Linked DNA regions of Homo sapiens. The protein of the gene in region 3 purifies or fractionates together with the protein of the main gene of each other region. This does not show direct contact. Each region holds a gene or a part of one and is shown on either strand. Other genes may lie near its edges.

Region 1 (2,490 bases), on a different chromosome or scaffold from region 3:
GGAAGATGCGTACTTAACTGGTTAAAAAATTAAGTGGCCCTGGAAAGTTTTACCCCAAAGATACAACTTCTTCACTTATTTAGTTCAGTAATGAGGCTGAGGGACCCAATTTTCAAGTGTGCATTTGAGTGGGAAACTTTTAAACACCATATGTTGAAGTTTCATGAGCTCAGTGGAAACCTTAAGGTCAGAGTAAAAGAAACTGGCTGTAAACAGCCCTGCAGTGAAGAGACTGGGTCTTAGCACCTTCCACATTCACTCAGCGCCATCTCAGTCAGCGCCTGCCAGGGAAAGGGCATGGAGAGCTGGGACGGGTGCCTTCTCTTTTGCACCACTCCCTTTGCATATTACACAGTGCACTGGCTTGCCTTACAATCTAAGGTTCACATACAGGGGGTTTTCTATACTGCTTCCGGACATTTTTTGCAAAAGAACATCAGAACCAATGAAGGTACCATTTCAGGAGGAATCATTTTTGTTTGACTTCTGCTATATGTTGCCCAGCATTAGTCATTGTTTTGATAAAGACTAAAAGGCCTTTTCTCAACATTTGTGCTCTCCCAACCACCTGGGAAAGCAACCCTTCCACTCACAAGAGGTAACCTCAGATAGGGATATAGTATTCATTTAAGAAGGGGTAGCCCCCCAGCCTGATTTAAAAAGGCCCAAGTCAATGTATGGAACATGACAAGGGAAGTGAAAAACAATGGAGTACACAGTCTGCCTTGAAAAGCAGCCATTTGATGAACAGTCACAAATACAAAGAATTTGGACATTGTAACATAATTTCAGAACTTGCTGGTAAGAATAATTTGCATTCACACACAAGAGACATGAAATGCTTTTTAAAAGTCTGTGATACCAGATGTCCTTTAAACACTACACAGACCCATTTGCCACTTGAAATGACAAGAAGAAATCCTTTCCCTTAATCTTTTCAATTCCATGCAAACCGTAATTGAGTACAAGGCACCAAATTTTATGAATTGTATAAAATTAGTTCACAAAGCTTTATCAGTAAGTAGAACAAACTCCATTTCTCCCTCCCGGCCAGCCCACCCTCCTCCCACCCACCACCCGCCATCCCCGACCAAGTTTTCATTCTGCACTACTGTCGACCTCTCTAGGGCTTATGCTGGGGCATGCCCCACTGTCAGCCAATCCACCTCATTGGTTCTTCCCTTGTACTTGGATGAAGCTGTAAGCACAGCCAGAGTAGCAAACTCATACAATCATTGACTCTAGAAGCCTTGCCATTAAAAACAAAAATAAACTCTGCTATTGAGTCCATAGGACACATTAACACTTCTACAGTTTCCAATTTTATTCATGACATTTTAAGAGACATCTGGAAATTCTTTTTTTTTTTTTGTTTTTGTTTTTGTTTTTTTTTTAAGACAGAGTCTCGCTCTGTCGCCAGGCTGGAGTGCAGTGGCACGATCTCGGCTCACTGCCCCTTCTGCCTCCTGGGTTCCAGCGATTCTCCTGCCTCAGCCTCCCAAGTAGCTGGGACTACAGGCACGTGCCACCATGCCCAGCTAATTTTTGTATTTTTAGTAGAGACGGAGTTTCACCATGTTGGCCAGGATGATCTCAATCTCTTGACCTTGTGATCCGCCCTCCTCGGCCTCCCAAAGTGCTGGGATTACAGGCATGAGCCACCGCGCCCAGCCTGGAAATTCTTTACAGTGTAGCACTGCCCCCCAACCCTGCCCCATAACTCCGAGACTGAGGGGCTGGATCAAAGCTGGCAAGAGCTCTGTCCACCATTTAATAAGAGCTTCAGTTCTGCCAAGGGCATTCCTAACTATTTTTATACTAGCATGGATGTTCGTCTCAGAGGCAACCACAGATATGAGGGTCAGGCTAGATTGAGGTAAAAAAAAATCCTTTTTGAGGGCCTAGGTGCACTCATCTTGGCTGGCTACAGCAGCAAGTAAACATGCCAGCCAACTAACTACAAAGGGTTCCTGGAATGAGACTCTTAACTACTTGCCCTGGGAGAGAAGCAGGCCCATTAAGGTTCGGTTAGGAGACCTTGGGTTTGATTTGGCAGCATCTAGTCAGTTTTTACCTGGTTCTTATTTTCTTCTCTTTAGAATGATTCAATTTCAGATGCAACTGAGACATTCATCTATACCCAGTACGTAAATAAATTAAAGGCAAAGGGACATTTCCCTCACAATAGCCATTGGCTTATGCAGCAGGGAACTCTTCTTTAATAAAAATCTCCTTAAATACTAACGTCCTAAGTGTCCAGTGCTGCCGCCTCTGGGTACCTGAGGTGTCTGTAACTGCAGTGGGCACCTTTCACAAATGTGTAGCTCAGTGGAGACTCTGATGTTAGTTTCTTTTATTACTTTGATATATGCGTGCTCAGCTAAGTTAAGCACTTATTTCACAAAGTCCTTAATCTGCTTAATAAATCCTTATAATATTTGGTATAAAACTATTTTTAAAAATTAAATTGGAAGATCTTTGAATTTTCCA
Region 2 (3,731 bases), on a different chromosome or scaffold from region 3:
AACAATTTTTGTCAAGTTTTATCATTGCTTTCTTGGGAGAGGACTTGTTGAGCTCCTCACTCAAGCATTCCAAAAGCACGGCTCCTACATTTTATTTTGAACAGTTTTTTCTTTTTTCCCTATTCATAGTGTTCTAAAGATCAAGAATAAATATTTTAAAGAGCTACTTGCTGGACTTTGAAGCACCCACTGAGCAGATACGAATAACCCATGAAATTTAGAACTGCTGAAGAAAAAACTTTCCCAAAATCAGGATCAGAATTTGAGTATCAACATTTTCAGGATTCCTCAATATTGCTTCAACACAATACTTTCTATACTTACTCTTAAAAATTGGGTAAAATAGGTCCCCAGGCAAAGGCAAGATTAGGGACTAAAGGGACCATGCTCAATAAAGCCTGATGTTACCCTACCTGGGCTCGCTCCTCATCAAACTCCAGACAGCCCATACCATCCAGTCTTTGGAGATCAATCCAGCCTTTCCAGATAACACAGACTCCATTCAGAATCATGGGAGCCTTCAAATATACCTAAGACACAGAAAAGGATGAAAATAATTGAAAACCATCAGACACATGAAAATAAAAAGATTAAACTTACTTATATAAACTCTGTAGAAAAGATGAATAAAATTATGATTGACTGATTGATTGAGATGGAGTTTCGCTGTGCTCCCCAGGCTGGAATGCAGTGGCACAATCTCAGCTCACTGCAACCTCTGCCTCCCGGGTTCAAGCAATTCTCCCACCTCGGACTCCCCAGTAGCTGGGATTACAGGCGCTCACCATCATGCCTGGCTAATTTTTTTTTTTTTTTTTGTATTTTTAGTAGAGATGGGGTTTCACCATGTTGCCCAGGCTGGTGCTGAACTCCTGAGCTCAGGCAATCTGCCAGCCTTTGCCTCCAAAAGTGCTAGGATTACAGGCGTGAGCTACCATGCCCGGCCAGACACTTTGATTTTTGAATGTTGGGTAGAAAGATGGAAAACAATTGGAAGCCACCACCCTCTGAAGAGAGCATGCACTGCTTCCCTCAACGTGGGTTCCTGGAGCATGCAGGATCAGGCTGTTGATACTCCCCTCAGTTTTATAAGCTATCTCACAGATTCCTGATAATTAATCTTTTTTTCTTTTTATTTTTTTGTCTTGTTAGCCAGAGTTGATTTCTACTGCTTTTAACCAAAGAACTTTAACTGGTATAATATTTACTATTATATCACATTAAGTAGTATGTGGTTATCTTTAGGTGTCCATAAATAATTCGGAACAAAACACTGCTATCCTTTATATGGGACTTATGAAATTTAATTCAAGCTATTTCACAGTTTTTTATTTATTTATTTTTTACTTTTCCCAATAGGCAACAGTAAGGTGAATCAGTCTTTTAAATATAGTAGAAAAGTTTTAAGGTCACAGGGTTTGACTACATGTATCAATTATTTATCTAGAAACTGGTAAGTTAACCCAAAATCTACTTATTTCAACTCCCTGTTGAAATTCTTAAATACTATAACAAAATCAACTAAGACAAAAAGGCTAGGCACCAGTGGCTAATGCCTGTTATCCCAGTACTTTGGGAGGCCAAGGTGTGAGGATCATTTGAGGCCAGGAGTTCAAGACCTGCCTGGGCAACACAGAGAGACCTCACCTCTAAAAAGTAAAAAAATAAAAATAAAAAAATGAATAAACTTAACCAAGCATCTTGAATTCTTAATAAATGGAAATGTGTTTATTCCTTACACATAATACCTTTAGATGACAAAATTAGCCAGGCTTCATACTGTATCACATCCAACAAGTATATCTACTTACACATTAGAGAAATATCGAAAATAAGTATCCTAGGATATGGTAACATCTCAAGTCACTGACAAATTAAATATGTTCACTATACTTTATGCACTGCAGTTTAAAAAAGTACCAATAAATTTTAAAAAGATCTTCAAGATTCCTGAAACCAAAAGTATCTCTCATCTGGTGAACCTTCAGCTTCATGAGAAAATTCCTACATCCTGGCTAGGCGCGGTGGCTGATGCCTGTAATCCCGGCACTTTGGGAGGCCAAGTTGGGCGGATCACTTGAAGTCAGGAGTTTCAGACCAGCCTGGCCAACATGGCAAAACCCCATCTCTACTGAACATAACAAAAATTAGCCAGGCATGGTAGCGCACAGCTATAATCCCAGCTACTCGGGAGGCTGAGGCAAGAGAATCACTTGAACTCGGGAGGCAGAGATTGCAGTGAGCCGAGATAGTGCCACTGCACTCCAGCCTGGGTGACAGAGTGAGACTTGTCTCAAACAAAAAAAAGAGAGAGAAAAAAAAGAAAACTTCTGTTTTACACTTTTATTAACTTTTCTTCTGAAACAACAACAATAAAAAACAACAACAAAAAACAAAAACCCATTTCTGCACCATTCTTTTTCAAGTAAATAAATAACTCTAGAATAAAAATTGCTTTAGGTATACATCATACCCAAATTTAGATCATTTTTGATCACCAAATTAATTCTCATATTGGCTCAAAATACAATTGTTCCCAAGAGTAACTATCCACCCAGAAAGGACGGTGTTAATTCTATCATCCTGAGGTGAATATTTTATTGTGATAGAGATAAACAATATAAGAGAAATTTATTACAGTTTCTACAATCTTCCCACTCCTAATACCACACTAACCTAATAGTTACTTTTAAAAACATAATTTTAGGGCTGGGCACGGTGGCTCACGCTTGTAATCCCAGCACTTTGGGAGGCTGAGGCGGGTGGATCACAAGATCAGAAGTTCGAGACCAGCCTGGACAACAAAGTGAAACCCCGTCTCTACTAAAAATACAAAAATTAGCTGGGCATGGTGGCGGGTGCCTGTAATCCCAGGTACTTGGGAGGCTGAGACAGGAGAATCGCTTGAACCCAGGAGGCAGAGGTTGCAGTAAACTGAGATCGTGCCACTGCACTCCAGCCTGGGTGACAAAGCTAGACTCTGTCTCAAAAACAAATAAACAAACAAAACACATAATTTTAGGTCTTCTCTACCTTGTTTAACATGAGTTTCTGAATAAACCAGCATAGGTTAATATTTACTGCCTTGAACAAGGTATTTTTAATGCAGAGGAAGTGGGAATTCTTCAGTGAGTTTTCAAACCTGCAGATTATCAAATATATATTTATTAACGAGGCTTTTCATTTACCTGCACCAAATGTATTTCCTTTGGGAAATCCAGTGCTTTGTGAGCTAAAATCTGGCATTATTTATTACCTGTTTAATTATATAAAAATCTGTAAAACAGTTTCTCATTTTGAGGAAAAAGCTGGAAGCATCTTTTTTTTGAAACTCATTTCAGTAGTCTCTTCAGACTCTTGGATTCTTTTTGTTTTTAGAGATGTTTAATAACAATAACTGACTGCCAATAATTATAAACATGATAAAAAAATTACCTCTGAGATACCTTTAAAATAGTACTTATAGAATTTATACCCTCTGGCTGGCCGCAGCAGCTCATGCCTGTAATCCTAGCCCCTTAGGAGGCCAAGGCAGGAGGTCATGAGTTCAAGATCAGCTGGGACAACATGATGAAACCCTGTCTCTACAAGAAATAACAAAAATTAACTGGGCGTGGGTGTGTGTGCCTGTAGTCTCAGCTCCTTGGGAGGCTGATGCAGGATAATCGCTTGAACCTGGGAGGCAGAGGTTGCAGTGAGCTGAGGTCGCACCACTGCACTCTAGCCTGGTA
Region 3 (3,831 bases):
TGTTGGCCAGGTTGGTCTCGAACTCCTGACTGTCATACATGTCCATATAGAAGACCACCTAAACAGGCTTTGTGTAAGCAATAATGCCATTTATTCACTTGGGTGCAACTGGGCTGAGTCTGAAAAGAGAGTCAGCGAAGGGAGATAGGAGAGGGGCAGCTTTATAGGACTTGGGTAGGCGGTGGAAAGTTACAGTCAAAGGCGGTCATCTGTTGTCAGCAGGGGAGGGGGTCACAAGGTGCATGGTGGGAGACCATGAGACCCATTGTCCAGAAGAAGAATGTCATAAGGTCGATTGATCAGTTAGGGTAGGGCAGGAACAAGTCCTAATGGTGGAATGTCTTAAGGTTGGTTAATCAGTTAAGGGAGAAACTGGCTGTTTCACTTCTTTTGTGTTTTTTTGGCTGTTCCAGACTTCTTGGCTGCTGCAGGCCATCTGGATGTATATGTGCAGTTCACAGGGGTCACAATGGCTTAGCTCTGGCTCAGCGGCCTGACACTGACCTCAGATGATCCACCTGCCTCGGCCTCCCAAAATGCTGGGATTACAGGTGTGAGCCACTGTGCCCGCCTGGGATCATATGTTACACGCATGTTTGTTCAATAAGCATGGAGTGCAGCCACCCACATGAATATTCATAGCTCCTCCTGTAGCCTGTTCAATATGTATGTTTAGCTAACCCCTTCAGCATAAAGCTCCTGCCCCAACCCCTCCTGCTTCTAAATGTCTGTCTCTGGTGTTAACCAGAGGCTGCTCTTCCCAGGCTGCTGGATGGCTACCTTGCAGGCTGTCACCCTTAACAAGAAATAAAGTGTCATTTGCAAATGCATCCCTTGTGTAATTTGTAGGTCACCACGCCATGGGAACACGCTACCAGGGGAAGGGAGCTGTGAGACGCGCAGGGAGGCTCCAGACAGGCTGGCCTGGGACACCAGCCGCTGCCCTTCCATAACATGGGGACAAGAGAGGGCAAAAGTTCAGCCCACCACGGAGGATCTCCGGGCAGGAGATGGGGAAGAAGGAGAAGCAGGAAGGAAAGAGCTCAGTGTGGGGGCGCGCATGGCATCCCGGTGGGACATCTGAGGCCCACACCCACCTGCTGTCCCTCCCTCCCACGGTGGCCTCCGAGGGTGACGGCCTGGGGGGAGGCAGACGCCTGGCCATTTACTCTCCCTCCCTGTCCCCATGGCCGCTGGGTGGGGGCCGTCTCTGGGATGATCCCCGAGGGCAGGATCCGGGAGTCCCTGCGGAGGCATCAGCCTGTCTGTCTTGATGGTGGAGAGGAGGCTCCAGCTGGGCGGGACCACCAGGGGAGGGGCTTGTGCTCTGCTGGCTCAGCCTGGTGTGGACCCACCTCCCGGGCGCTGGCTGCAATGACTTTCTCTTTCCCTTTGCAATTGCCTTGGGTCCTGCCGCACAGAGCGGCCTGTCTTTATCAGAGGTCCCTCTGCCAGGGGGAGGGCCCCAGAGAAAACCAGAAAGAGGGTGAGAGACTGAGGAAGATAAAGCGTCCCAGGGCCTCCTACACCAGCGCCTGAGCAGGAAGCGGGAGGGGCCATGACTACGAGGCCCTGGGAGGTCACTTTAGGGAGGGCTGTCCTAAAACCAGAAGCTTGGAGCAGAAAGTGAAACCCTGGTGCTCCAGACAAAGATCTTAGTCGGGACTAGCCGGCCAAGGATGAAGCCTCACTTCAGGTACCGCTGCCCGCTCTACCCACTGGGCCCCTCTGCTGCCCCTTCTTGCCTGGTGGCTCTGCTGGGCGTCAGCCCTGGCCTTCCCCTGCCCCAGCCCCAGCCCTGGGCTCCCTCCCCTCTGACTCCCCTGCACCCCCTACTCCCAGCCAGGCTCCTTGCCCTGCTGTGTTGTCGCCCCACTGCTGCTTCTGAATGGGCCGCCTCCCCCATCTGTCCCAGCCCAGGTCCCCTGCTGAGACTCTCCCCTGAAAGTCATGGCTGGGGTGGTGCTCCCGGCCCTGGGAGGGTGCTCCCTCTGTGTGCTTCCCGCCATTCCTGAACTCTGGAACTGGGAGAATTGAACCAAAGGATGAGTAGAGCAAGGTGGAATTTTGTTCACAGGGCTTTGATGGATTTTCTGTAAGATTTACTTTGCTTAAATACCAAGTCTTAGGAGAGGGTGTGGGGAGGGAATGGTCTCTGAAGCACAGGATAAATCATGTCTTCCAAGGATGTCTCCACTGTGGGCAGAGGAGGATGCAGATGACCCCAAACACACGCTCCTCCTCCACTATCAGCATTCACTGTTTATAAATGACACCAGTAACATGGAATATAGTGGCCGGGTGCGGTGGCTCACACCTGTCATCCCAGCACTTTGGGAGGCTGAGGTGGGCGGATCGCCTGCGGTCAGGAGTTCAAGACCAGCCTGACCAGCATGGATAAACCCTGTCTCTACTAAAAATGCAAAATTAGCTGGGTGTGGTGGCGGGCGCCTGTAATCGCAGCTACTTGGGAGTCTGAGACAGGAGAATCCATTGAACCCAGGAGGCGGAGTTTGCAGTGAGCTGAGGTCGCCCCATTGCACTCCAGCCTGGGCAACAAGAGCAAAACTTCGTCTTGAAAGAAAAAAAAACAAAAACAAAAGAAAAAACATGGAATATATGGGAAAAAAACTCAATGATCAGGAGGAATGTTGTTATTTTAAAATTTAGTAAGAAGAGAGCCCGGTCCCCAATGGCTGCCTCCTGCAGGGCCAGTGATACAGAGACTGGACAGGGCTGGCCTGGAAAGGGGCCCCCACTCCATTTGTCCCCAGCTCTGTGGCCTGGGCAGGTTACCCCGCCTCTCTGCGCGTCTGGCCCCTCCTCTGTAAGACGGGAATGGCCCCTGCCAGCCTAGGGCAGCCTCACATGAGCTCACCCCCGCGCAGCACTTAGAAGACTGGCCTGGGCCTCAGAATTCGGTTCTACCATGATTTAACAATAATAATATACAGAGGTGAAATGTCAGGAAGGAACTGAGCTGAAAGGTTAAAAGCTGTTATTTTGGGGTGAAGAGTTTTATTCTGTCTCTCTCTCTCTTTTTTTTTGAGACGGAATTTCGCTCTTGTCGCCCAGGCTGGAGTGTAGTGGCGCGATCTTGGCTCACTACAGTCTCCGCCGAAATTCTCAGGGGAGGGGAGGGATGGGGGAGGCCTAGAGCCGTCCAGGGGGCTGTGTTTAGTGGACATCAGCCCGGAGGGCCCCCAGGAGTGCTCTCTACATTGGCTGGTTTCTCTCTTGTGTCTTCAGAAACACAGTGGAGCGAATGTATCGAGACACATTCTCCTACAACTTTTATAATAGACCCATCCTTTCTCGTCGGAATACCGTCTGGCTGTGCTACGAAGTGAAAACAAAGGGTCCCTCAAGGCCCCCTTTGGACGCAAAGATCTTTCGAGGCCAGGTACCACCCGGACTCCAATCACTTTGCAGGCAGGAGCTAAGCCAGCTGGGAAAGCAAACCACGCACTGATAAGTGAAGTGCCCGGCGGCGGGCTATCCAGTGTGTCCTTCTCTCCCACACTTTCCAAGTCCGTGGCCCTGACCTTCCTGCTGGACCGTCCTGGGATCGGATCGTGGAGGGGGTTTGCCTCTGCACAAAAGGCCTTGTGTTTCCGTTTTTCTTTTCTTTTCTTTTTTCTTTTTTTTTTTTGAGACAGAGTTTCACTCTTGTTGCTCAGGCTGGAGTGCAATGACGCGATCTCGGCTCACAGCAACCTCTGCCTCCTGGGTTCAAGCGATGCTGTCGCCTCAGACTCGCAAGTAGCTGCGATTACAGGTGCCCACCACCACGCCCAGCTGATTTTTTTTTTGTATTTTTAGTACAGATGG

Evidence for each region.
Region 1: the proteins of APOBEC3G (region 3) and USP49 purify together in Homo sapiens (affinity purification with western blotting; one study listed by BioGRID). This does not show direct contact.
Region 2: the proteins of APOBEC3G (region 3) and CBFB purify together in Homo sapiens (affinity purification with western blotting, with the first as the bait; one study listed by BioGRID). This does not show direct contact.

The regions. Positions count from the first base shown.
Region 1 is NC_000006.12:41,791,886-41,794,375, forward strand, and holds part of USP49 (ubiquitin carboxyl-terminal hydrolase 49), read right to left. Parts: 3' UTR 1-2,490. UniProt on the Homo sapiens protein: Deubiquitinase that plays a role in several cellular processes including transcriptional regulation, cell cycle progression or innate immunity.
Region 2 is NC_000016.10:67,063,481-67,067,211, reverse strand, and holds part of CBFB (core-binding factor subunit beta), read right to left. Parts: intron 531-3,731; coding exon 414-530; intron 1-413. UniProt on the Homo sapiens protein: Forms the heterodimeric complex core-binding factor (CBF) with RUNX family proteins (RUNX1, RUNX2, and RUNX3).
Region 3 is NC_000022.11:39,075,683-39,079,513, forward strand, and holds the start of APOBEC3G (DNA dC->dU-editing enzyme APOBEC-3G), read left to right. Parts: upstream 1-1,592; 5' UTR 1,593-1,679; coding exon 1,680-1,696; intron 1,697-3,249; coding exon 3,250-3,403; intron 3,404-3,831.